Linked DNA regions of Homo sapiens. The protein of the gene in region 4 purifies or fractionates together with the protein of the main gene of each other region. This does not show direct contact. Each region holds a gene or a part of one and is shown on either strand. Other genes may lie near its edges. The genes, in order: PIK3C2A, MAP3K21, GOLGA7, HAVCR2, CNTNAP1, PLD2 and TSPAN7.

The links.
Region 1: the proteins of HAVCR2 (region 4) and PIK3C2A purify together in Homo sapiens (affinity purification with mass spectrometry; 2 studies listed by BioGRID and IntAct, with this or other methods). This does not show direct contact.
Region 2: the proteins of HAVCR2 (region 4) and MAP3K21 purify together in Homo sapiens (affinity purification with mass spectrometry; 2 studies listed by BioGRID and IntAct, with this or other methods). This does not show direct contact.
Region 3: the proteins of HAVCR2 (region 4) and GOLGA7 purify together in Homo sapiens (co-immunoprecipitation; 3 studies listed by BioGRID and IntAct, with this or other methods). This does not show direct contact.
Region 5: the proteins of HAVCR2 (region 4) and CNTNAP1 purify together in Homo sapiens (co-immunoprecipitation; 3 studies listed by BioGRID and IntAct, with this or other methods). This does not show direct contact.
Region 6: the proteins of HAVCR2 (region 4) and PLD2 purify together in Homo sapiens (co-immunoprecipitation; 3 studies listed by BioGRID and IntAct, with this or other methods). This does not show direct contact.
Region 7: the proteins of HAVCR2 (region 4) and TSPAN7 purify together in Homo sapiens (affinity purification with mass spectrometry; 2 studies listed by BioGRID and IntAct, with this or other methods). This does not show direct contact.

What each region holds. Positions count from the first base shown.
Region 1 is NC_000011.10:17,166,487-17,169,986, forward strand, and holds part of PIK3C2A (phosphatidylinositol 4-phosphate 3-kinase C2 domain-containing subunit alpha), read right to left. Parts: intron 3,321-3,500; 5' UTR 3,256-3,320; coding exon 2,191-3,255; intron 1-2,190.
Region 2 is NC_000001.11:233,326,259-233,330,523, reverse strand, and holds the start of MAP3K21 (mitogen-activated protein kinase kinase kinase 21), read right to left. Parts: upstream 2,801-4,265; 5' UTR 2,496-2,800; coding exon 1,691-2,495; intron 1-1,690. UniProt on the Homo sapiens protein: Negative regulator of TLR4 signaling. Does not activate JNK1/MAPK8 pathway, p38/MAPK14, nor ERK2/MAPK1 pathways.
Region 3 is NC_000008.11:41,497,082-41,500,581, reverse strand, and holds part of GOLGA7 (golgin subfamily A member 7), read right to left. Parts: intron 3,074-3,500; coding exon 2,921-3,073; intron 1-2,920. UniProt on the Homo sapiens protein: May be involved in protein transport from Golgi to cell surface. The ZDHHC9-GOLGA7 complex is a palmitoyltransferase specific for HRAS and NRAS.
Region 4 is NC_000005.10:157,106,245-157,110,354, forward strand, and holds the start of HAVCR2 (hepatitis A virus cellular receptor 2 precursor), read right to left. Parts: upstream 2,801-4,110; 5' UTR 2,740-2,800; coding exon 2,682-2,739; intron 719-2,681; coding exon 383-718; intron 1-382. UniProt on the Homo sapiens protein: Cell surface receptor implicated in modulating innate and adaptive immune responses. Generally accepted to have an inhibiting function.
Region 5 is NC_000017.11:42,685,531-42,689,030, forward strand, and holds part of CNTNAP1 (contactin-associated protein 1 precursor), read left to right. Parts: intron 1-426; coding exon 427-611; intron 612-1,372; coding exon 1,373-1,516; intron 1,517-2,189; coding exon 2,190-2,451; intron 2,452-2,931; coding exon 2,932-3,081; intron 3,082-3,345; coding exon 3,346-3,500. UniProt on the Homo sapiens protein: Required, with CNTNAP2, for radial and longitudinal organization of myelinated axons. Plays a role in the formation of functional distinct domains critical for saltatory conduction of nerve impulses in myelinated nerve fibers.
Region 6 is NC_000017.11:4,820,541-4,823,930, forward strand, and holds the end of PLD2 (phospholipase D2), read left to right. Parts: intron 1-1,252; coding exon 1,253-1,367; intron 1,368-2,099; coding exon 2,100-2,324; 3' UTR 2,325-2,890; downstream 2,891-3,390.
Region 7 is NC_000023.11:38,666,042-38,669,541, reverse strand, and holds part of TSPAN7 (tetraspanin-7), read right to left. Parts: intron 3,422-3,500; coding exon 3,233-3,421; intron 1-3,232. UniProt on the Homo sapiens protein: May be involved in cell proliferation and cell motility.

The DNA.
Region 1 (3,500 bases), on a different chromosome or scaffold from region 4:
TAGGTAAATGACTTTTCAATAATGGGAAGTTCAGAATTTAAGATATAATTAAATTAATCAAGGTAATTTATAAACATCTGTATTAACTTCAAGACAATCTATTGTAGCTACAATGCATTCATTGTGGGGCTCTGCCTTCTACCAGTGCAAGGCTTGAGCCTAAGCGCAGCTCCCTACAAGACAAGGGGCTTCCTTTTCTTTGATAGCAAGACTAACTTATCAGAGCCCCAATGTCTGTCTCCAGGTTCAAGGCAGTTGCCCTTCCCAAACAACTATAAACAGCTGACATCTTAAATCCAGACTACATCTCAAATCCTGACTCCAGGCACTAAACACAGAATTCATTTCTCTCATGAGAAACCTATAAAATAGAGACCCACAGCTGGGGAGTCATCTGCCTATTAGAAATTGACCCGAATATGAATCCAGCAGTGACCTGGGCCCTGCAGGATGGGAAAATTAGGGGGACCAGTGCCTTCCCCCCAACTGCCCCTTTTTTTTTGAGATAGAGTCTTGCTCTGTCGCCCAGGCTGGAGTACAGTGGTACAATCATGGGTCACAGCAGTCTCAACCTCCTGGTCTCACACGATCCTCCCACCTCAGCCTCCCAAGTAGCTGGGACCACAGGAGTATGCCATCACGCCCAGCTAATTTTTTTGTAATTGTGTTAGAGACAGGTTCTCATTATGTTGCCCAGGCTGGTCTCAAACTCCTGGGCTCAAGTGATTCTCCCACCGTAGTCTTCCAAAGTGCTGGGATTATAAACATGAGCCATCATGCTGTCTAAACCTTCTTAACACCGATTTCTCTTCCTTCCAGACATCCAAAATGTTTTTTTTTTAAGTCAACAATTTGGCCGGGCATGGTGGCTCACGCCTGTAATCCCAGCATACTGGGAGGCCAAGGTGGGCTGATCACCTGAGGTCGGGAGTTCGAGACCAGCCTGACTAACATGGAGAAACCCGGTTTCTACTAAAAATACAAAACCAGCCAGTGTAGTGGCACATGCCTGTAATCCCAGCTACTTAGGAAGCTGAGGCAGGAGAATCGCTTGAACCTGGGAGGTGGAGGTTGCAGTGAGCCAAGACTGCACCACTGCACTCCACCCTGGGCAACAAGAGCAAAACTTCATCTCAAAATAATAATAGTAATAAATAAAGTCAACAATTCAACATAAACCGATCCAAATCATGCAAAATCCATCCCTCCCTTCCCCATCTAAATGCTAGTTAACTCCCAATGATAAAATAGTAGGTAAGTGCTGATCTAATTAGCTGAATATTAATTCACGTTAAAGTGAGAATGAGGCTTAAACATTCCCAGGATACACAGATATAAAAGCAAAACACAAATCTGCAATGGTAATATTTCATTCTTCACTTTTATCGACAAAAGTGTTTAAAGGGAGAGTCCTTTAAATTGCTCTTCTCTCTGGGGTTATTTATTCATTGATTCATGGTTAAAAACAACAAAACAAAATGCGTGAGAATTTCTATAATGGGGCTAAAAACCAAAATTTCTTATTTGCATTTAAAAAAAAACAGGAATAAGGAAGAGAAAGAAGGGAGCATATGTAATGAGGAGACATGGACAGACAAATTTAAAATATCTTAAATGCCTCTCAGTGACAGCCAGTTCCTTCATTAGAGGCTTTTTATTTACAATCCTAGAAAAATATTAATAGCAAGCAATTTTTCAATTGGCCTAATCACATTTCATCCTTTGCCACACAAGCAAAGAATCAAAGCACACTTGAGAGCAAAGAAAAACAAAATTCAAAGTGAAAAATATTTTTTTTTCTTAACAAATTATGGGCTGGGCGCAGTGGCTCACGCCTGTAATCTCAGCACTTTGGGAGGCTGAGACGGGTGGATCACGAGGTCAGGAGATCGAGACCATTCTTGCTAACACAGTGAAACCCCGTCTCTATTAAAAATACACAAAATTAGCCGGGTGTGGTGGCGGGTGCCTGTAGTCCCAGCCACTCGGGAGGCTGAGGCAGGAGAAGGGTGTGAACCTGGGAGGCGGAGCTTGCAGTGAGCCGAAATCACGCCACTGCACTCCAGCCTGGGCGACAGAGCGAGACTCCTTCTTAAAAACAAAAACAAAAACAAAAAAACACAAATTATGTACACAAATATGAACTCTGTGTTATACTAAGTTTGAGAAGTTAGTAAGAAAAGACTATACCTGAGATATATGGCCCTGGGCTTTTGCAAGCTGAGTTGTTCGAATATTTAAAGACTGGCTTCTTGTAACAGTTGCCACAGAAAGGGATTTTCCATTCACCTTTCTTTCAAGATGACAATTTGCTGTCGATCTCTCTTCAAGAAGAACAGCATCCCAAGGATCCTTTGCTAGCAAACTTGAAACATTTTTCTCTTCCTCATGGTCTAATACCTCCACATTATCCACCTTAGGCTTACTTAGAGGATCCAAGTCTAACCAGTCAAATTTACTGATATCCTCAGACTTTGGAGATACCTGTAGATTGCTGACTTTTGAATCTGTTATCTCCAAATCAGTCCTTGCTTTCCCATTTTTTAAAAATTCTGATGTACTAGCTATTTTGTCAAATAGTTTTGCCATGTCAGTACTGACTACTGGACGATAGATAGGTAAGCTTCCTTGTGGATGAAAGGGTGTGGCAGGTGTCAAAGGATATGAGAAATATGGAGATTGTCCCGGAAGACTTAAATATATAGGTTCTGTAGATGGAAAAGTGGGCATTCTTGGATTGAAGCCATTTTGGAATGCAGCCTGTTTACTGTAAGTAGAAGGATAAATAGAAGGTAAAGCATAAGTGGAAGGCCCAGGTAATCCAGGTGGCCACTGTCCTCTCTGAATAGTAGGTCTAAAATAGAGCTGTGCTGAAAAGGAAGGGCTCAGAATAGGAGTAACTGGTAATACAGGTGTTTTTTTAGTCTCGAAACTGTCATCCAGCAATAGTTTCTCAAGTTCAGCTTGGGTGAGCTTTTCTACATCAATATCTAATGCTCTTTTTTGGGAATCTGATTCAGGAAACACCATGAGATCATAATCCTGCTTGTTATAAACCTGTGCTTTTTTTCTGGTGCTGCTTGACAACTCAAAGCCTCTCTGATTGTCAGTCACTTGTCTATCCTTTTGCAGTTTTGCTAAAGCCTCTGCTTCCATCTGTAATGCTTCTTCTTTGTCCACATCTTTTGCTCTTGTTGGTTCCGGATGTGAAGATGGACATTCTTTAAATCCGCTGTTGCTAGATATCTGAGCCATGTCCACTAAAAAGACCAAACCTTCCTTCCTCTATTTTTTTCTTGTAGCTTCCAAAATAGCAAGGCCTATACATAAAAATAAACATAACACTCAATTAGATTTCTAAACATAAATATATTTTGTTTGCAACCTACCCCATATGACTTTGGACTTTAAGCCACTTAGAAAAATATACTACAAAATAAACAAAATAAAACAGATAAAATCTGGGTGAAGGAACACTTAACACCTTATACACTGTTGGG
Region 2 (4,265 bases), on a different chromosome or scaffold from region 4:
AATAGGGCTTATGGAACACATGGACAAGTCACCCATTCTATGGCAGCACCTGGTCAGACGTTTCTTTTATTGAAAAAAATATATATATATTATCGAAAGAAAAGTATATTTTAGGAAATTGCGCTCTGTTTTTACTGTAACACAGTTCAAAAGCAAGCAATGCTATAGTCCTTCATGTGGTCTGTCAAAGTACTAAGAATACACCGCTACCAGTAACAACATATTTTGTTAGACTTTGCTCTCATCACCTAAGCAGATGCAATCTAAATTATAGAGAGACTTGGGGGGAAGGAGGATCATGAAATAAAACCTAATGCTTATGCTTAGCTACAACATTCCAATTATTTACAATTCCCAGTGAAAATGCTACATTAGTAATTTTCAAGTAAATTTCTTCTTGTCACTCTTCTTTAGGGACAATGTTTTCACTTGAGCTAGCTCCTGTCCTAGCAGGTTTCACAGGATTGAAAGACCTCCAGCTGTTGTAGGCCAATGCCAGGGCTGGCTGCATCCTTTAACCTTCCCTGGGATTTCATCTCATTATAAGAATATGAAGCGATCTTCAATATTAAAGAACCAACATCAAACAGCAATTCTATAGGCTCTTTTATACAGCAAAGTTTCATAGGATTTGCATTTAAGTCATTTGTCAGTTCTTTATTGACATCTGGAAAATCCACCCTGATTTATAAACAAAGTCAATGACACTGGCCAGGTCTTCAAGGTTTCAAGTACCTGTGCAAGGACAATGCACTTGTTATTAACCCAAAAGTGCATTACGGTGCACACCAGTGCCTCTTGTCTGGAGAAAAGAAGCCATTGAACCAATAATAAAATCATATTTCACGTAGAGACACTTTTTTTTTTTTTGAGACAGAGTCTCACTCTATCTCCTAGGCTGGAGTGCAGTGGCGCGATCTTGGCTCACTGCAACTTCCGCCTCCCGGGTTCAAGTGATTCTCATGCCTCCGCCTCCCGAGTAGCTGGGATTACAGGCGCCTGCCACTACGCCGGGCTAATTTTTGTATTTTTAGTAGCGACAGGGTTTCGCCATGTTGGCCAGGCTGGTCTCAAACTCGTAACCTCAGGTGATCCGCCCACCTCGGCCTCCCAAAGTGCTGGGATTACAGGTATGAGCCACCGCGCCTGGCCCATAGAGAGACATTTGAATGAAAACAGTCTTTGGAAAAGGTAAGAGACATGAAGTCATATTTTGAATAGGCAAACAGCAACCTCAATACAGCACTTGTAAAGTTGACGTCCCCGAGTGCATTCGGGGACTTTGATGAAGGCCACCGGGTGAAGACGGTCATGGGTTCCATATAATCTGCAGAAGGCCTCGGTTTGCAAAGTCCTACCCAGATGAATCACCTCTGGTATTGAAAGGCCAGACTGCCCCCTGAGGTTTCTAGGAGATCCAGGTATTTTACAAATGTTTCCTCTACAAGCAAGTCTGGTCTGAACTTTTTTAAAAAGCACCCAAAGGCAAGTCAAGGTTAAGCGTGTCACCAGCCCCAAAGCAAGTAACCAAGGACTAGCTGGACTTCCGAGCCCTGAAGGCCTGGGCATGAGTTGCTGCTGGCGCCCTAAGGCTGACTCCCACCTCTTTCCATCTGGTACTATGTCCTGTGGAGCCCGCCTGGGCTGGCACGGAGGTAGTCTTCCCCCACCTCCCTCTGGCCCCACTTACTGTTGCTGGACTTGAGGTCCCGGTGCAGGATGGGCACGAAGGCCTCCTCATGCAGGTAGAGCATGCCCCGCGCTATCTGCACGGCCCAGTTGACCAGCACGTGCGGAGGGATGCGGCGCGCGCGGCGGGGGCCGGGCGCGCGCGGGTCCGGGGCGGCGTTGGCAGCGGCCAGCGCTCGGTTGAGCGCTCCGCCGCGGGCGAACTCCAGCACCAGGCAGAGGTGCGGCTGCTGCAGGCACACGCCGCGCAGCTCGATGATGTTGGGGTGCCGCAGCATGGCGAAGAGCCGAGCCTCGCGCCGCACGCTCTCGGCAGCCGCCGCCGCGTCCTGCTCCGGGTCCTGGCGCGCCGCCTTCACGGCCACCTCCTGGCCCTGCCAGGTGGCGCGGTACACCTGCCCGAAGCCCCCAGCGCCGATGAGCTCCTTCAGCTCCAGCCGCTCGAAGGCGACGTGTACCGGGGAGCTGGGCCGCGAGGGCGGCGGCGCGGGGCTGGCGGCCGGGCGGCAGGGAGCCACGTAGTTGGCGGGGAAGATGCCGAGGCGCCGCTGCACCTGGCCTGCCCACCAGCCCTCGTCGCCCGACACGGCGGCGTCCTGCGACAGCACCTCCACCAGCTGGCCGCGCCGCAGGCTCAGCTCGTCCTCGCCGCGAGCCTCGTAGTCATAGAGCGCGGCCCACAGCCCCGCGCCCGCCGAGGCCGAGCCGCCCGAGGAGGTGGACGACGAGGACGCTGAGCCGCCGGGGGCTCCCCCGGCCGAGGACACCGGGGTGTCGGTCGCTCCCGCGGCGCCCCGCAAAGCCATGGGGGCAGCTGCGCGGGGAAGGCGGAGCGGGAAGCTGGGCTCAGCCTCCCGGGCGGCCGCGGGCGCGCATCGTCCGGCGGTGTGGCCGTCGGCGCCGGGGGAAGGCGAGGGGGTAGGAATCGCGATCGGTGACGGCAGAGATCACGGGCTAGCTGCCCAAAGGGTCCAGCCTCGGCCCGCGTTCCTGGCCAGCCGCCTCTGCTGCCGCAGCGGTCCCCGAAGCCGCGGGCGACGTCCCACCATGGTCGTGCCCAGGCCCTGCGGCCGGCCCGCCCGCCGCGCGCTCCTTAGCCAGAGCCTGGGACGCCCCACCCCACCCTAGCCGCGCCAGGGCCGCCCCGCCCCCTCCGGCTCCATTCCGCACCGCCCCCCCACCCCCCCGGGCCCGCCCCTAGGCCAGTCCCCAGGGCCTTCCCGCCCCTCCCCCAGCCGCCCCGCCCTCTCCAGGTTCATTCCGCCCTCCTTGACCCGTCCCGGGCGCCCAGTCTGCGCCCGCCCTATGGGACCGCCTTCCTAGGTTCGCCCCACCCTTCCCCACCAACTGCACCATCCCGCCCCGCCCTCGCCAGGTTCACTTCCCTTTTCTGTGCCAGTCCCCAGAGCCTCGTCCCGCCCCTGGCGCCCGGGCCCGTCCCCCACCACCTTGGGCCGGGCCCGCCCCCTGGGCCCGCCTGGCTGGTCCCACCCCGCCCCCGCCGCAGGTGCTCCGGAGCAATGGTGAGCCGCGCCCACATGGTCTGGGAGGCGGGATCGGCCGTCATCCGCTATAAATTTTCGGGAGAGTTTAAATTAAGCCAAAGGTAAGACTGAGGGAGGGGACGCTTCTCCAAGAAGCGGTGGGAGAGGGTTGAGAAGATGTGGGGCTTTAGGGTGTGGCGGGGAGAGAGAGAGTTGCAGTTCAGGGAGAGTGACAGAATCTCAGAACGGGCTACAGAAGAAATTGTAGCGCGGTGCCAGACCTGGGCCAGTGCGAGTGGCAAGTCACCATGCTAAGTGCGTTTGAGCCACCGTGCATCTCAGAACTGACTAGGTTACAGATCGCAGCGCAGAGTGACCCGTGGTCGGTATAGTCCCAGAAGCTCCATGATGGTAAATCCTTTGCTTATTTTTACTGTCTACTCAGATGGAAAATGCCCCAGTCTCCCTGGAAACCCACAGGTTTGGGTTTAGGAAGCATTGGCAATGGCTGGGTGCCAGACGTTGGTAGGTTACTGTGGCAGGTGATGAGGCTAAAAAGATAGAAGAGCTTAGTTATTAAAATTCTAAAATATTAGATTATCCTGTAGTAGGCCAGAATTTCCTAACGTGTGGATCCTGTACTTCCAATAACAGAAGGGACAATTTTAGATATTATGAGGATAGGACATACAGTAACATTCTGAGTTACATAAAGATAAATTTATTGTCTTTTCAGTTTTCTTTGTCTCTCAGATCAAACTATTTATTGGCTGTGTGACCTTGAGCAAGTTTCTTTATTTCTCTATGACTCAGTTTTCTCATCTATAAAATGGGAATATAATAAATAGTACCTACTTTATAGGGTTTTTAGGAAGACTAAATGAGTTAATAGTTTTACAGTGGGTCTTCTGCATCCACAGAATCAACCAACAGCTGGTCAAAAATGTTTTTTAAAAACCCAAAAAATAACAATACAAATAATACAAATAAAATACAGCATAACAACTATTTACAGAGCATTTACATTATATTAGGTATTATAAGTAATCTAACTATTTAAAGTATGGGCATACTTTGGAGATACTGCAAGCA
Region 3 (3,500 bases), on a different chromosome or scaffold from region 4:
CACATCACTCTCTTGATTAAATCCTTTGAGTAGCTTCCCACTTGCACTAAAAATAAAATCTACACTTCATTCCATGGACTAGGCACTCCATGTTACAGCTCCTGCTTACCTCTCCAAATCCACCTCCCATCATTCTCTGCCCCTCCTCTCCTGTGCATCACCTTCTCTCAGTTCCCAAGGTCCATCAAGCTCTCTGGGCCTTTGTGTATGTTCATCTTTCTGCCTTAATGCCCCAGGCTTTTCATCCTTCATGCAACAGCTTAAATGTCACCACCTCAGAGGCCTCTTCTGACCACACACCCTAGATTAGGTCCCGCTTATTATTTTCAAGCATAGGCCAGTTTGTTTCCTTCAAGGCACTTATCATAATGTGTAATTTTGCTGGCTTTGTTTCCTTGTTATTATCAGCTTTCACCACTTAATTATAAACTCCACAAGGTCAGCAACCATGTTCGCCCTGTTCCGTTATGTCCCAGCACTTTGCTTAGCACATAGTAGGCTTTCAATAGTTACTGAGCAAACAAATCCCCTGAGCCTTCACTCACTGAACGTATTATTAGAGAGGAGATACACTGAAACAGACTGAAAGCTGACATAGAGCCTTGATAACTTCTGATTTTGAAAGTTTAAACAGGAATGAAAGCTTCTCTGTGTATTGATATGGAAGGGAAGAGCACGGTCCCTTTAAATCATACAGAAGCAGGCAGGGAAGTGCTGGGTAGAGAAGGGCATGGTCCCTGGCTAGCGCTCCACCTCCAGGCCTGTGCCCAGTAGTGAAGACAGACATTTTTGTTTTCCTGCCCAAATGCTGCATTTCCACCCTGGCCTGCCACACCCCTATCCTGTGCCTATAAAAGCCCTGAGACCCCAGCAGGCAGACAAACAGGTGGCTGGATGTCAAGAGGTGCACATTAGTGGAGGAACACACAGGGTGGCTGGATGTCAAGAGGAACACACTGGCGTAGGAGCACACTGGCACACCGGTAGGCCATCAATTGGCAGAATCAGGTGGAGTTTGGCCAGGGTGGTTGGAGAAGAGTTCGGTCATCGAGCGGCCTGACTCCAGGGGAAAACTATCTCCCTTCTGGCTCCCCCATCTGCTGAGAGCTACTTCCACTCAACAAAACCTTGCACTCATTCTCCAAGCCCACATGTGATCCGATTCTTCTGGTACACCAAGGCAAGAACTCTGGGATACAGAAAGCCCTCTGCCCTTGTGATAAGGCAGGGGTCTAATTGAGCTAACACAAGCCGCCTATGGATGGCTAAACTAAAAGAGCACCCTGTAACATATGCCCACTGGGGCTTCAGGAGCTGTAAAACATTCACCCCTAGACACTGCTGTGGGGTTGGAGCCCCACAGCCTGCCCATCTGTATGCTCTCCTAGAGGTTTGAGCAGCAGGGTACTGAAGAAGCAAGCCACACCCCATCACACGCCCTGCGAGGGGGACAAGAGAACTTTTCCTGTTTCAACATGGGGAAGGATATAAATAACTATACTTAAATATACCTGTTTATATGAGATGGAACAGGATGGTAATGAAGAATACAACAGCATTTTCAGCCAACAGCTCCAAAAACTTTAGCTGCAACTATATGCACTCTCCACTACATGGAGTGTAAGACATTTCTATCAGATGGGTCATAATATATTCTTATAGCATTTCGTTTTCTAAGCACTGTCAGAATTTAGTGATATACCAGGGGCTTACCATGATTAATTTACAGTCATTTATTTAACATACATTCAATGAGTGCCTGATATACCCAAAGCATGGTGTTAGGCATGAAGAGGGATACAAAATGGTTAAGGCATTGTCCTCAAGAAAAGTACATACTTGAAAGGCAAATAAGACAAGAAAATAAACTGCTACATTCCAAAGAAGAGTGAGGCAAGTGCCAGAAAACAGATACAAATAAAATGTTGTAGGGACACAAGAGAAGAGAAAGAATTCTGACTAAAACAGAGAACAAGTTAGATGGAAGTGAGACCTAAGGGACTGGTGGGATTTGAACCTGGGAAGATAGCATTCCAGGTGGAGGAGAACCACAGTGGGTATGTTTGCTGACCAGTGAGGGATGGAGTTTGGCTGAGGGAGAAAGTGAAGGAAGGAATGGGAGGTAGCGCTGGAAAGGTAAGCTGAGGTCAACTTGAGCAGGGCCTTGAATTTTACTCAGTGGTAAAACATGGGAATCCAGGGAAGGTCTCCGACTTGGCAGAAGTAGTAGGGGAAGTAAATCTGCGCTTTATAAAAACAACAGCAGATAGTTTAGAAAAGCAAAAGGAGGGAAGAAATGAGACAAGTCAGACTATTTCAATAGTCTAGGAGAGACAGAATAAGGGCATAACCCAGGATAGTGGCAGAGGAAATCACAAAAAGTTAATGACTGGGAAAATGAAAGATACTTCAGTCTTTGAAAACAGATTAATTTTTCCCTCTTCTTCATCCCTCATGCCCAAAGATGGTACTGAAAAGACAGGGGTGCTATTGACAAAATGGGGAGGTGGGAGGTTTGACTTCTGGTCATCTTAAGTTGAGAAATCAGCAATTCGGGAGCTAGTAGGCAGCTGGAAAGAGAAAGTAAGAACTCAGGTGGGAGAAGAGAGTGAAATTTAGGGAAATAAAGTAAAAACATTCCCAGAAAGCTGAGTAGGAAGAGAACATATAGATTTTCTACATTCTTCTTAAGTGTAGGCCAGTCTGAACATTGACACATCATCTGCAAGTGGACATACCAACTGCAACCTGTTTTGAAAGACTCAGGACTATGTGCCTCTGTACACAGGAACAACACAATTTGAATGATAAATGCCCCTAAATATTTTACGGCAACTATCACCATGTAAGCATCAATGTGTAATAAACTTGCCTTCTTCATGATTTTAAGAGATTTTTGTGAAAACAAATGTAGCATTACCTTCTCATAATGAGTTTCCATGCATAGGAAGATGGTATATGCTGTTAAACAAGCCAAACAACCTTCGAGATATGACTGGCCGCCGAGCTTCTCTGCTTCTGCATAAAGGTTATTTAGAGTTCGAACTGTTTCTTCAAACTGCTGCCTATCAATCTGTAGAGAAGAAAATATTTAAAAATTAAGTTTTGGAAAAAAAAAATCAACTAATGCATGCTATCATTAATTTATCTTGTTTTCTCACCATTCTTAGTTGACAATTTTTTTGGTGACTAAATCTGGGCCTAAGTTACCAAAACTGCTTAATTTGTTTAATTTTATCCCTCTTATAAATACTGGATAGCTTCAAGGCTCAATAAGGTACTTCTTTATTCTTTCTACTAAATTTCAAGTAACTTTAGGCTCTATTCCTCTTTCCATTCATTTAGTTTCACACTTACTGAGCGCCTACTATCAGATACTATGAAAAATCTCAAGATAAAGCACTGTCTCAATCCTTAAGAGTTTAATTATGCAAGCAGAACAGGCAATGTAAACATAAAAATGCAGTAAGCTGGCCAGGTGCGGTGGCTCATGCCTGTAA
Region 4 (4,110 bases):
TTCAGCCCCCCAAGTAGCTAGAATTACAGGCTCCCGTAACCATGCCTGGCTAATTTTTTGTATTTTTAGTGGAGACAAGGTTTTACTATGTTGGCCAGGCTGGTCTCGAATTCCTGACCTCATGATCCACCGGCCTCAGCCTCCCAAAGTGCTGGGATTAGAGGTGTGAGCCACCACGCCCAGGCACACCCATGAGTTTTAAAACAGAGAGAAGGTGTTAAATATCACTGAGCATCACCAATGGGGCCTGTTAAACTTTAGGTCTTAGTGGCCCTCCTCCAGGGCTATAATTAGGGAAGTCAGAGATGAGAACAATCAGTACCTTTAATATGATCCACAGATAAATCTTATTCATAAAGATGGCATGCAAATGTCCACTCACCTGGTTTGATGACCAACTTCAGGTTAAATTTTTCATCATTCATTATGCCTGGGATTTGGATCCGGCAGCAGTAGATCCCACTGTCTGCTAGAGTCACATTCTCTATGGTCAGGGACACATCTCCTTTGCGGAAATCCCCATTTAGCCAGTATCTGGATGTCCAATAATTCACATCCCTTTCATCAGTCCTGAGCACCACGTTGCCACATTCAAACACAGGACAGGCTCCTTTGCCCCAGCAGACGGGCACGAGGTTCCCTGGGGCGGCTGGGGTGTAGAAGCAGGGCAGATAGGCATTCTGACCGACCTCCGCTCTGTATTCCACTTCTGAGGACCCTGCATAGAGAGAGAAGGAGAGCCAAGACTCAAGCGGTGAGTGAGGTTACTCCATTTCAGGAAAACTGCAAGCCATGTCTTACAGAATAAAGAGGAAGCTACTGCTGCAGTCCTGTTTGGAGGATGATTCGCTGTGACAATGCTTCTCAGATGTGAAGGCCATCAGAATCACTGGGAAGCCTTGCGAAAACACAGATTGCTGGGCTCAACTGCTAGAGTTCCTGACTCAGTTGGCCTGTGGTAGAGCCTGAGAACTTTTATTTCTAACAAGTTCTCAAGTGTTGCTGAAGTGGCTGGTCTCAGAACCTCACTTTCAGAAACACTGCCCTAGGAGAGAATTGTGGCCCAATTCTGTGAACACGGGAGAACAGGGCTGATGGAAACAGACAATCAGAAAATTAGTCATGGTCAGCCAGGAAACGGCCCGCCCATCTGGGCTACTTGCTTGTTCATCAACAAAGGGAGGCTCTCCTAACATACTTCTCTTTTTAAGCAGCAAGTGCACAGTAAATACAAACCCTTGGTTAAATAAGGATCTTGTGTATTTGAAACTACTCATGGAGTTGTTTTAAGGTTTAAAGTTGTGAAAAGAAATTAAATTTTGGGACCCCAAACTCATTCAGTCAAAGGGAAAAGTCAAGCTGGGAACTGGGTCACAGAAACCTGCCTCCTCTTTTTGATTCCTGAATAAGATGGCTACAGGATGAAAGGCTGCATACCTCCCCCATATTTTGCCCACAAGGAAATTCCTGGTCAGCTGTGCAATGCAGATTGATAGCTCATCTTTACCGGTGCGGTCACCCTGGCCAGACACAAATGCGTTATCTGATTGTTTCCCTACCCCATTTTGTCTGTGTTATCTAATGTAAAATGCAGATTCCCCATATTTTTCCTCTGCCCCCCCCCCTTTTTTATGTGAAAACTGAGTGCTTCTCAATATCCCACCTTGTCCCCTTTAAATCTGGAGCCCTCAAAATCATCTTCTGAGAAAGTCATAGACCTGTCTCTCAGGTGCCTCCTTAACTTTGGCAAACAAATCTCCTAAAATGATTGAGACTTGTCTCCTCATTTTCCTCAAATGACAAAGTTAATTCCATTAAAAAAAAACTATATATATTTTATATATGATAAAACATTCATTATATATTTTCTTTTGATTTTTTATGTCCCCTTTGTTTTCATATGACTCAACTACAGTAAAAACATTCAAACACTATCAAAGGTGTATGAAAAAGTGGCCGGGCACACGGTGGGTCACGCCTGTAATCCCAGCACTTTGGGAGGCTGAGATGGGCAGATTACTTGAGGCCATGAGTTTGAGACCAGCCTGACCAACATGGTAAAACCCTGTCTCTACTAAAAATTAAAAACATTAGCTGGGTGTGGTGGTGCACGCCTGTGATCCCAGCTACTCCGGTGCCTAAGGCAGGAGAATCACTTGAACCTGGGAGGCGGAGATTGCAGTGAGCCAAAATGGTGCCACCACTGCACTCCAGCCTGGGCAATAGAGTGAGACTCCATCTCAATTGAAAAAAAGAAAAAGAAAGAAAAGAAAAAGAAAAAAAGGAAAGAAAAGAAAAGAAAAATATGCCTTACTCTCCCAACTCTTTACCATTCCCTGGTTCCTTTTCCTAGAGCTTATACATTAAGAAATGTCCACATATTCCTGCTCCCCGACAATGCACACACACAAATAGAAGCCTAATATATGCATTATTCTGCAACTTTTTTTCTTTAATAACATTATAATTTTGAGACATTCTATACCAGTATGTTTTGTCAGACTCACTGTTTGTATCATGATTATATCACATTTATTTACCCACTCCCTCATCGACGGACATTTAGGTTGCTTCCAAGCTTTTGCTATTACAAACAACATTACAATGGCCATCCTTGTATCTCTCCCTTGTCCTCTGTACAGCACCATTATGTCATTGTAAATATCCATGCCGAGACTTACTTGTAAGTAGTAGCAGCAGCAGCAGCAGGACACAGTCAAAGGGAAGATGTGAAAACATGGAGCTTGCAGAAGAAAAGTCAGAGGACACCTCTGTTAGGCACAGTTTTAACTCTCCAAATGGACTGGGTACTTCTTCCAACTGTCTACTCCACAATCACATGAGCAGTAGCCGCCCCCACTGAGTGCTAGCTCAGCACACCCGGGTGTCTGATTGCCAGTGATTCTTATAGTAACACTGCCAGGTCTACAGTCACATTAAAGGAAACCAAAGTTCTCTGTCATGCCACACTACACACATCCTGTAAGTGTTCTGATGTCTGTCCTGTGATATCAACAAAGAGGAAGCAATACTTCAGTGGAAGAAAACGCTACTCAGTCATGGCACATAAAGAGAACCCTCTAATAATGTCTCAGATGAGATACACCTGAAATGGAGCATGTCCGAGTCCATCTGACTAGCGGGGAACACAAAGTACAGATGCATCATCCATGGATTCATTCACTCAAATCAGTCCCTTCATCAGGCCTGTGACCAAAGTTTATGAAGCCCCTACTTTGCACCAGGCACTGGACTAGGAAGTGGAACACAACAGTGAATGGCATGTTCCTTATCCTCACATTTACAGACCATAGCAACTCCCAGCATAAGCCTCACTCTCATCCTTCTTCTAACACAGATTAGGTTGTATCCTATAACCTTGCTGAGTCTCAGTTTCCTCATTTATATAATTTATAAAATGAGAAAATTGTATTAGATAATACATGCATGGCTCTCTGTTCTAATATTCTGACTTTGACCTTCAAACTTCCAACTCTTCAATTTAGAAAAAACATGTTCCTTTTGGCAACAGTTCCTTTCCTCTACTCTGAGTAGAATTAAGGGGATCTTGGTATCCTGTTTCATCTCATGCATACAAGGTGCCCCCTCTCCCCTACCCCAAGAGGCTTTGGCCATGAATGATCAGAAAGTGTTGAGTTCCAGCCACACTCCCATAACTGAGGTAACAGCTTAGACTCACGTAGCCTCAGCTCTGGGAGTGTGACCTTTATCTGGACACCTTAAAAGCAAAAGCTTTTTTTTATAAAAGGGAAGTGAGCTCACAGGCTGAGTGGTTTCTGAAAAGCCAGTGGCCTTCCTCTATGTCTTGCCTTCCTGAGTTTCTTTGTCATTCACATTTATGCCATTAAATGCATTGGGTATAAATACCAAATTTGTTCAATATAAACAAATGGCATTTAATATAAATATGCAACTTGTTCAATGTGTGTACTTCCCATAGCATTGCAGAGTGGCAGTTACTCAAGAGATCATAATCAATTTCTCATTTTATTTTATTTTATTTTTATTTATTTATTTATTTTTTTGAGATGGAGTTTCGCTCTTTTTGTCCAGGCTGGAGTGCAATGGCATGATCTCGGCTCACTGCAA
Region 5 (3,500 bases), on a different chromosome or scaffold from region 4:
TAAGGCCTGGACCAAACTGCCCCTTTCTTGTAGCATTTGGTGCTAGCAAAACACTGGAGTTGAGTGAGAACTGGATTCCAGTCTCAGCTCTACCACTACACAGAGATGTGACCTCGGATGGGGCACTTCCGAGCCTCAGTTCCCTCCTTGTAAACACACACACACAGACGCACACACATTGTATCTCATTAGCTTTTCATAACACCCGCACATGAAATAGAAGCAGCTCATGTGTTCCCAGTTTTACAGACAGGAAGCCAGGCTAAATGGCTTACCCTGTCACACACTCGCCAATGGCTGTTGATCTATTCGCCCACTCTCCCTGATTGCCCTGGGCTTTGTTACACGCTGCTGCTCTGCCTAGGAGCTTGGACTCCATGGAGTTCTCCTGGCTTGAGGTTTCACTCTGTCCTGCCCCACCCTCAGGCAGCAGCCCTATCCAGCCAAGACCAGGTCACACCACCGTGAGCGCAGGCGGAGTCCTCAATGACCAGCACTGGCACTATGTGCGGGTGGACCGATTTGGCCGCGATGTAAATTTCACCCTGGACGGCTATGTGCAGCGCTTTATTCTCAATGGAGACTTCGAGAGGCTGAACCTGGACACTGAGGTGAGAGACTAGGGAGGTGCTATTTCGTGGTAGGGTAGATGCTGGATGAGTGAGTGCAGGTCGGTCTCTCCCTTTCTCTTTTCCTCTGTCTCTCAGAGGAAAGACCTGGCATTCAGGCTGTGGGTGGTGGCTCATGCCTGTAATCCCAGCACTTTGGGAGGCTGAGGTGGGAGGATTGCTTGAGGCCAGGTGTTCAAGACTCACCTGGGCAACATAGTGACATCCTACCTCTATTTAAAAAAATTTTTTTTTTCAAAGACCTCGCATTCCAATTCCTGAATATCCTAGCAGCCCTTGGCAAACTTGCCACTCACCAGAAAAAGGCCTGTTTTTTTTTTTTTTTTTTTTTTTTGTGGGTGTTGTTGCTGTTAGCATGCAGACTCCCAGGCACTATTTCAGAACTAATGAGATGGGGTTTGGAAATTCAGATTTTGGGGACTAGGCAAGGTAGGAAAATTGTTCCCTTGGATCCTCCCACAACTTTGTGGAGTTGTTAAAGACCCTGACCCCATCTGCAGATAAGAATCCCAGGCAGGCTAATTGACTTGCCCAAGGGCGTGCAGCCGATTTGTGTTGGAGTCAGAGCTTGAACTCAAGCCTTGAAAGGCCTAGCGAGCTTTAGTACCGACACTGGGGAAATGTGTGTTTTAAGTCTTTTACAAAACCCCATCTGGCATTTGGGAAAGCATACGGCGGGGACGCGCGAGAAAGGCAGGCGCCCTCCTGTGCCCAAGAGGCCTCATTCCCCACGCCTCCCGCAGATGTTCATCGGAGGTCTGGTGGGCGCCGCGCGGAAGAACCTGGCCTATCGGCATAACTTCCGCGGCTGCATAGAAAACGTAATCTTCAACCGCGTCAACATCGCAGACCTGGCCGTGCGGCGCCATTCCCGGATCACCTTCGAGGCCAGTGGGCAGGGGGGTCTGGGAGGACAGGATATCAAAGCGTCGTGGAAAGCAAAGAGGTGGAGCGGGAAGAGATATTGAACATCAGATAAAAGCGGAGAATCCCTCTGTCCCCAGCCAGATGCTCAAGTTGGGAGGGGAGCGGGTCTCACCTGAGGTGCATGAGCCACGCAGGCCCCTAGTTAAGAAGCAGTGGTCGGGTCCAATCACCTTCTTAGTTCATAGATGAAGAAAGTAAGGCGCAGACACAGGGAGTGGCTTGTCCAGGGGTCGTGCAGCTGCACGGTGGCTGAGTAGGGACTTGAACCGATGGCTTCTCTGATATGCCCCCCTCAACCCTCTCCGACTCTGGAGCTCTGTTGGGAAGCTGGCAGGAGCCAGGTCTGTGGTCCAAAATTGCCTCTCGATACTGGAAGGAGAGAAGCGGTCGAATCGCAGACGGTGGAGATCAGCGAGAGCAAGCGAGCAGAGTTCCGAGGGCCGACTGGGTTGGGGCCCCCTCCACAGATGGACGAGCTTGGAGGGGAAGAGGTCACGTCATGGTTGGAGATCTCACCCCCGCCAACACCGAAGGAGGGCGGTGACCAGGGTCTTAGACCGGTGTGAAAACTGAATTCCCAGCTGAGGCAGAGGCGGCTCACGGGTGTTGATGCGTCTTCACTTTTGCCCCTAGGGTAAGGTGGCTTTTCGTTGCCTGGACCCGGTACCGCACCCTATCAACTTCGGAGGCCCTCACAACTTCGTTCAAGTGCCCGGTTTCCCACGCCGTGGCCGCCTGGCAGTCTCATTTCGCTTCCGCACCTGGGACCTCACCGGGCTTCTCCTTTTCTCCCGTCTGGGGGACGGGCTGGGCCACGTGGAGCTGACGCTCAGCGAAGGGCAGGTCAACGTGTCCATCGCGCAGAGCGGCCGAAAGAAGCTTCAGTTCGCTGCTGGTGAGGGCGTTTCGGGGGAGGCACAAGAAGAGAAGAGAAGTGTAGAGGATCCCAGGAAAGTTGTAGGCCTGGACTGAGGCCTTTACATTCTGGAGAGGGGAGAGGAGTGAAGGGGGCAGGGCAGGAGGCCCCAGGGTACTGGGAAAAGGTGGGAGTGGCTAGAGGCAGTGAGGAGGCGAATCTGAGGGACTAAGTATTCTTGGAGAAGGGGGAAGCCTGGGAGTCCTGGTATTCTCCAGTTCCAGAAGGCCCCTGGAGATTTGGTTACTCGTTTATAACTGTGCAGACTCTGTGGCAGTTGCTGGGTCATGGATAATGAAGAGACATTCAGAGAGGTCTCCACTGGGTGTGAGAAGTGTAATCACGGGGGCACACAGGCTGCTACTGGGACACAGTGGGGCTGCTGCTTCCCCACTCAGAACATTCTTCTACCCTAGTTGCTGCTTCCCTCCACCCACACCATCATCCATTCTTGTCCAGGGTACCGACTGAATGACGGCTTTTGGCACGAGGTGAATTTTGTGGCACAGGAAAACCATGCAGTTATCAGCATTGATGATGTGGAAGGGGCAGAGGTCAGGGTCTCATACCCGTTGCTGATCCGGACAGGGACCTCATATTTCTTTGGGGGTAAGTGGGGGCCAACCTGACCAGACCTCTGTTTCTGGGTGGGAAGGCTCCATCTAAGTCCACCCAGATGGGGCCACATGGAGAATTTTGGAGGGATCAAGCCCTCTTCCCCTCTGGGGCCTCAGGGAGTGGAAGGTCATTGCCATCTACACTTTGGTTGTAGTCCCCTTTCTTCCTTTATGTCTGGCTCCCCCTCAGCATGTCCCTGGGGGAGGGTCTTTGGGGTCTCCCCTGGGGAGGATCTCACAGGGGTGGTTGCTCCAGGTTGTCCCAAGCCAGCCAGTCGATGGGACTGCCACTCCAACCAGACGGCATTCCATGGCTGCATGGAGCTGCTCAAGGTGGATGGTCAACTGGTCAACCTGACTCTGGTGGAGGGCCGGCGGCTTGGATTCTATGCTGAGGTCCTCTTTGATACA
Region 6 (3,390 bases), on a different chromosome or scaffold from region 4:
ACCACCGCCCCTGGCCAAAAAAAAAAAAAAATCTTTTTTTTTTTTCTTTTTTTTTGAGAGGGAGTCTCACTGTCGCCCAGGCTGGAGTGCAGTGGCGCGATCTCGGCTCACTGCAGGCTCCGCCGCCCAGGGTTCATGCCATTCTCCTGCCTCAGCCTCCCGAGTAGCTGGGACTACAGGCACCCGCCACCTCGCCCGGCTAATTTTTTGTATTTTTAGTAGAGACGGGGTTTCACCGTGTTAGCCAGGATGGTCTAGATCTCTTGACCTCGTGATCTGCCCGCCTCCGCCTCCCAAAGTGCTGGGATTACAGGCATGAGCCACCACGCCCGGCCAAAAAAAAAAAACTTTTGTGTTTTGTTTGTTTGTTTGTTTTCTTTTTGAGACGGAGTCGCTCTGTCACCCACGCTGGAGTGCAGTGGCGCGATCTCGGCTCACTGCAAGCTCCGCCTCCCGGGTTCATACCATTCTCCTGCCTCAGCCTCCCGAGTAGCTGGGATTACAGGCGCCCGCCACCATGCCCAGCTAATTTTTTGTATTTTTAGTATAGATGGGGTTTCACCGTGTTAGCCAGGATGGTCTCGATCTCCTGACCTCGTGATCCGCCCATCTCAGCCTCCCAAAGTGCTGGGATTACAGGCATGAGCCACCGTGCCCGGCCAAAAAAAAAATCTTTTAAAAGTAATTTTTTTCACAGGTTCTGAGGATTGGGGAAAGAACAGAAAAAGAAGAAAATTTAAAATAAAAATAATTTTTTAAAGCATCAAGGTAGTCATCAAAGTCAAGACAAATCAGAACTCTGTTGGCTTCTTTTACACTTATTTTACTATTTTATATTGCATTTATTTTGTTTTTGTTTGTTTGTTTGTTTTGAGATAGGGTCTTGCTCTGTCACCCAGCTAGAGTTCAGTGGCGTTACCACGGCTCACTGCAACCTCGACTTCGCCAGCTGAAGTGATCCTCCCACTTCAGCCTCCCAAGTAGCTGGGACTATAGGCACATGCCACCGTGCCTGGCTAATTTTTGTATTTTTTTGTAGAGATGGGGTTTTGCCATATTGCCCAGGCTGGTCTTGAATTCCTGAGCTCAAGCAATCCACCTGCCTCATCCTCCCAAAGTGCTGGGAATACAGGCGTGAGCCACCGCACCCAGCCAATTTTGAATTACCTGAGTAGGGACAATGTAACTTTTCTGGTACTCAGGTTCTCTAAGGATCTTAATCTGGCCCTGCTGGGACCCCTTTCTCCTATAGTGTGATTCTTGGAGCAAATACCCGGCCAGACTTGGATCTCCGAGACCCCATCTGTGATGACTTCTTCCAGTTGTGGCAAGACATGGCTGAGAGCAACGCCAATATCTATGAGCAGGTGGGAACTTGGGAGGGGTGGGGGAGAGTGGCCTGGGGAAATTTGTGGATTATCCTGCTCAGGGTAGGATGGAGAGAAGCGCCACCATACAGTCATTATTGGAAGGGGGATGAGGGCCTGGGGACATTTGCTATCAAGAGATTTAGTGGCCCAGGCCGGGTGCAGTGGCTCATGCCTGTAATCCCAGCACTTTGGGAGGCCAAGGCCCGGTGGATCACCTGAGGTCAGGAGTTTGAGATCAGCCTCCCAACATGGCAAAACCCCATCTCTACTAAAAATACAAAAAAATTAGCTAGGTGTGGCTGGGAGGCTGAGGCAGGAGAATCTCTTGAACTCAGGAGACAGAGATTTCAGTGAGCCGAGATCACGCCATTGCACTCCAGCCACCTGGGCAACAAGAGCAAAACTCTGTCTCAAAAAAAAAAAGTACAAAAGTTAGCCGGGCATGGTGGTGGGCACCTGTAATCCCAGCTACTCAGGAGGCAGAGGCAGGAGAATCACTTGAACCCGAGAGGTGGAGATTGTAGTGAGCCGAGATCGCACCATTGCACTCCAGCCTGGGCAAAAAGAGTGAAACTCCGTCTCAAAAAAAAAAAGAGAGAGAGAGTTAGTGGCCCAGGGTCAACGGGGGGTATGGAGAGATGGTATGGGGGAAGGGGTCTAGCCTAGTTGGACTTAGATTGTTGGGAGAGTCTCCCCAAGCCTTACTGGCGTCCATGCCCCCGCCCACAGATCTTCCGCTGCCTGCCATCCAATGCCACGCGTTCCCTGCGGACTCTCCGGGAGTACGTGGCCGTGGAGCCCTTGGCCACGGTCAGTCCCCCCTTGGCTCGGTCTGAGCTCACCCAGGTCCAGGGCCACCTGGTCCACTTCCCCCTCAAGTTCCTAGAGGATGAGTCTTTGCTGCCCCCGCTGGGTAGCAAGGAGGGCATGATCCCCCTAGAAGTGTGGACATAGTTGAGGCCCCCGTCAGGGAGAGGTCACCAGCTGCTGTGCCCCACCACGTCTGGCTCCCTGCCCCTTAACCCCAAGGACTGAGGGCAGTGCCCTTTGAGATCTGGGGAGGCAGGCATTCCTGAAGGGAACTAGAGGTGTTACAGAGGACCCTTACGTGAGAAATAGCTGAAAAGGGCACTCCCAACCCTGGGCTGGGGAGGAGGAGAGAGTCCCAGAGCTCATCCCCCCTGCTGCCCAGTGCAAACCACTTCTCCATGCTGCAAAGGAGAAGCACAGCTCCTGCCAGGGTGAGCAGGGTCAAGCCTCTTATTCCAGGAGAAGGGGGCTCTGCCCCAGGCCCTACTACCCATTGTTCCCTTCCTCTTCCTGCCCTTGAACCCCCTCCCTGTCCCAGGGCCCTCCCAGCCCATTGCTGCCAAGGTGGAGGGAAGGATAAAGCCACTTCTGGCTTCAGCCCCCACCAGGGGAAGGAAGGAGGGCACATTAACTCCCTCCACCAGCCTGCTGACAGACACTAACTTTGTATCCGTTCAATAAGCATTTCATAAATAAAGGTGTAGAAAAGGTTCATGCGTCTTCCTTGGAGGAACTAACTGCTCGTTCCAGCCTCCCGTTCCTGCCCACACGGGGCACCAGTCCCCTTCACCTTATCTCCACCCTCCTCCACTCTCCTCTCTCCACCTCTGTTCTACCTATCTGTGGCTTCGGGAGCTCGGTCACCTGGCTCCTGAGAGGAGAAGGTGTTGACACAGTGCCGCCTGGGTAGAAGGACGGGCAGGGCCCAACCAGGGCACCTGGAGAACTGTGGAGCTGCTATCACAACCGCAGGTGAGGGAGATGCTCTGAGAAGGACCTAGAGAGGCTGCCTCTTGTTCAAGCAACAGCCCTGGTAGAGGCTTAATGAAGGCCCTGTGGGAGTGGTTGAGGGTATAGGCTTAAGGTCAGGAAGACCTGGACCCAAATCCTGGACTCCTCAATGAGAAGCTAGGTGAACTTGTCAAGTCATTCACTTCTCTGGGCCTCAGTGGTCCCCGCTGGGAAATGGGAATAATACTTACATGACTAG
Region 7 (3,500 bases), on a different chromosome or scaffold from region 4:
TTGGGACGAGCTTGTACTAAATACAGGTCAGTAGGGGTTAGAGCTTTTTTCCCAAATGTAAACATTGGAGTTGAAATAGTCCTAGCTTTGGAAGGAAACATACAAGGGTTCAAATCCCAGCCTTCCATACATTAGCTGTGTGAATTTGGGTGGGTTATCTAAACCCCCAAGTTCCTATCACATTATATGAAAATATAACCTACACTGCATGGTGGTAGTGAGGAGAAAAATAAAATATCATACGCACCCAGTATAGCCTCTATCACATAAAAGGACCAAATCATATTTTAAAAATTTTATTGTTTTTAACTAACATATAATAATTGTACATATTTATGGGGTACAGTATGATGTTTTGATACATGCATACTCTGTGTAATGATCAAATCAGAGTAGTTAGCATATCCATTACCTAAAATATTTCTTTGTGGTGGGAACATTCTAAATCCTCTCTTCTAGCTATTGCTAAATATGTAATACATTAACTATAGTTACCCTACTATGCAATAAAACACCAGATAATTCCTCCTATCTAGCTGTGACTTTGTACCCATTGGCCAACCTCTGCTTCTCCCTCCTCCCCTGTCTCTAGACAAAAAAAAAAATAAATGCTGATGAGGATGTGGAAAAGGGAGAACTCTTATACACTGCTGATTGGAATGTAAATTAGTACAACCACTATGGATAACAGAGTAGAGGTTCCTCAAAAAATTAAAAGTAGAACTACCATATGATCCAGCAATCCTACTGCGGGGTATATACCCAAAGAAAATGAAATCAATATGTTGAGGAGATAGCCACGCCCCCATGTATATTGCAGCACTATTGACAATAGCCAACCTAAGTGTCCATACACACTGGACACAATGTGTCTATACACAATGGAATACTATTTGGCCATAAACAAGAATGAAATCCTGTCACTTGCGACAACATGAATGAATCTAGAGGATTAAGTGAAATAAGTCAGGGAAAGAAAAGACTAATAACTGCCTGATCTTACACATATGTAGAATCTAAAATTTGATCTAAAAGACATTTTTAAAGACCCAAATTAAGCCCCAAACCAAAAAACTTCTCTACTTCCCAAAATGCTCACCTGCCAGTGAACTTGTGTTAGGAGAAGAAAATGGTAGTGTGGTGTGAAGCCACCTCCAGAAGAGGCCAGAACTAACTATTCCATTGTTTATACACATATCCTATTTTATGACATTATACTCAGCTATGGGATACTTCTGCCCCACAAGCAAATTGAGAATTAGAACATAAAAATATCACCTCTCCCACCCCTCTCCAGTCATAGTATTTGGGCCGGGAGAAACTTTGGTGATTTAGTCCAATTCTATTTTGTTACAATTGGAGACAAAGGTCCAAGGAGGTTACATCCTTGCCGCTAAAGACTTTAAACAGTTAGTTGGAATCAGTCAGGTCTCAACACCACATCACTTCCCTTCTTGTTTGAATGGATGGTTTTTTAGAATTTTTTCTTTTCTCTGCTTTTGAAGTTAATTCTCCCCTTGCTACTCATTGTGCTAAACAAAAGGTTCTCAATACTGGCTACAAGATTGAATCCTCTGGAGAGCTTTTTAGAAAATAAGATGCCAGGGCCTCACCACCACTGAGGAGTCTACTTCAACCAGCTAGTGGTGGGATGCTGGCAAAGGTTTTTGCAAATGGCTTCCCAGGTGATTTAATCATGTATCTGGAGTTGAGGACTATGGCACTAGACCAAAAGAAACCCTAGTGTTTATGAGAAGTACTAGAAGGTAGACTCAGGGTGTTAGAATAGAGTGCCAGGTGACAGCAGCAGAAGCCTGGCCCATAATCAGGATGGGCCTCATTATGGCTTGCCCATCAACCTGAAGAATCAGTGGCGGCTGAGGCATCAGCCTCCTGTATGGTCTGCAGGATAGAAAATGGCAAAGTCAAGCACCACTTCTATGAGGTTGACAACAGAGACTGACTGCCCAGTGCCAGTTGGGAAGATGGTTCCTTTGGAATGAACCACTCTCACACCCACATATATCACTAGATGGTATTAAATGTTACTACAACCTAGGGCTACACAGGGACAGGCAACATGGCCCTGATGGAATCTTTGCTTCTCCCTTCACGGAGTAAGATGCCTGAAATAAATATTTTTAAACAAAATTTTATTTTGAGGACAGGTCCTTGCTAATTTTTATCTATAAAATCCTTTACCATTAATCCCCATCAGTGAAGAACATGAACAGTGAATAGAGAATTAGTTAACTGCTGTACCTAAAAGTTAAAAATCACAGTAATAGCCTTTCAATAGTCTGCCCTTATCATCTGGGAAGCATCACTGCTTTATCTGTCCCATGAGAGTATGCACCCTGCACTGGTCCTGGTAGCCAACACTTGACACTGCATAAGTCCTCTGGGTGGCAGGCTCTGGCTTAGCTCAACTCTCATAGCACTGAGACAGGGAGTACAGGTTCAGAGAAGACCACACACATGCATCCATGCATGGCCAGGCTCAAGGAGGTGGAAAGTATTTCTCCAATAGGAACTTGGAGGTGAAAGTCTGCTTATGTTCAGGATGCTGCCTTGCCACCAAAGCTGCATATCACATGCTTAAGGAGACTTCTAAGATATAGTTCAAAATTGAAACAGGGCGAGGCCGGGCACGATGGCTCAAGCCTGTAATCCCAGCACTTTGGGAGGCCGAGGCAGGTGGATCACGAGGTCAGGAGATCAAGACCATCCTGGCCAACATGGTGAAACCCCGTCTCTACTAAAAATACAAAAAAAATTAGCTGGGCGTGGTGGCGGGCGCCTGTAGTCCCAGCTACTTGGGAGGCTGAGGCAGGAGAATGGCATGAACCCAGGGGGTGGAGCTTGCAGTGAGCAGAGATTGCGCCATTGAACTCCAGCCTGGGCAACAGAGCGAGACTCCATCTCAAAAGAAAAAAAAAAAAAAGAAAAGAAACAGGGCATCTTGTCATGAGGATACAAATGGACTACTGCAATCACTGGCCACTGCTTTGTCATCATCTACCCAGAGGGACTGGGACTAGATTTAGTGTGCCAGGCTGTGTTTGGGGTTGTTTTTACCTCTAGGGGATTAAAGGATGGATTAGGAAAGAGTCTGGACTGAAATTGTTAAGGTCTTGTCTGTGACCTCAAGACGAACCACTTCACCTCCATGTAATTTATATTTTTACAAAAATATAGTTGAGAAAGCAGTATTATGTTGTGACATACTCACCAGTTTCAGCATCCATGGGCTACCACGACATGTAGCAAAGCATCCAAACAGGCCAAAGACAACAATAGTGGTGCCAGTTCCGATGAGCACATAGGGAGCATTTGTGGAGTTCTCGGCAATAAGGGAGATATAGGTGCCCAGAGTAAGTTTGCCCCAGACTCCAACAGCCAGCAGGATCACCCCAGTGATCTGAAAGAGGGAGAGGAGAGTGTGAAGCTATTGCCAAGAGAGGTGAGAATCAGCACAGAGCAATGTGGCCAAATTTGAA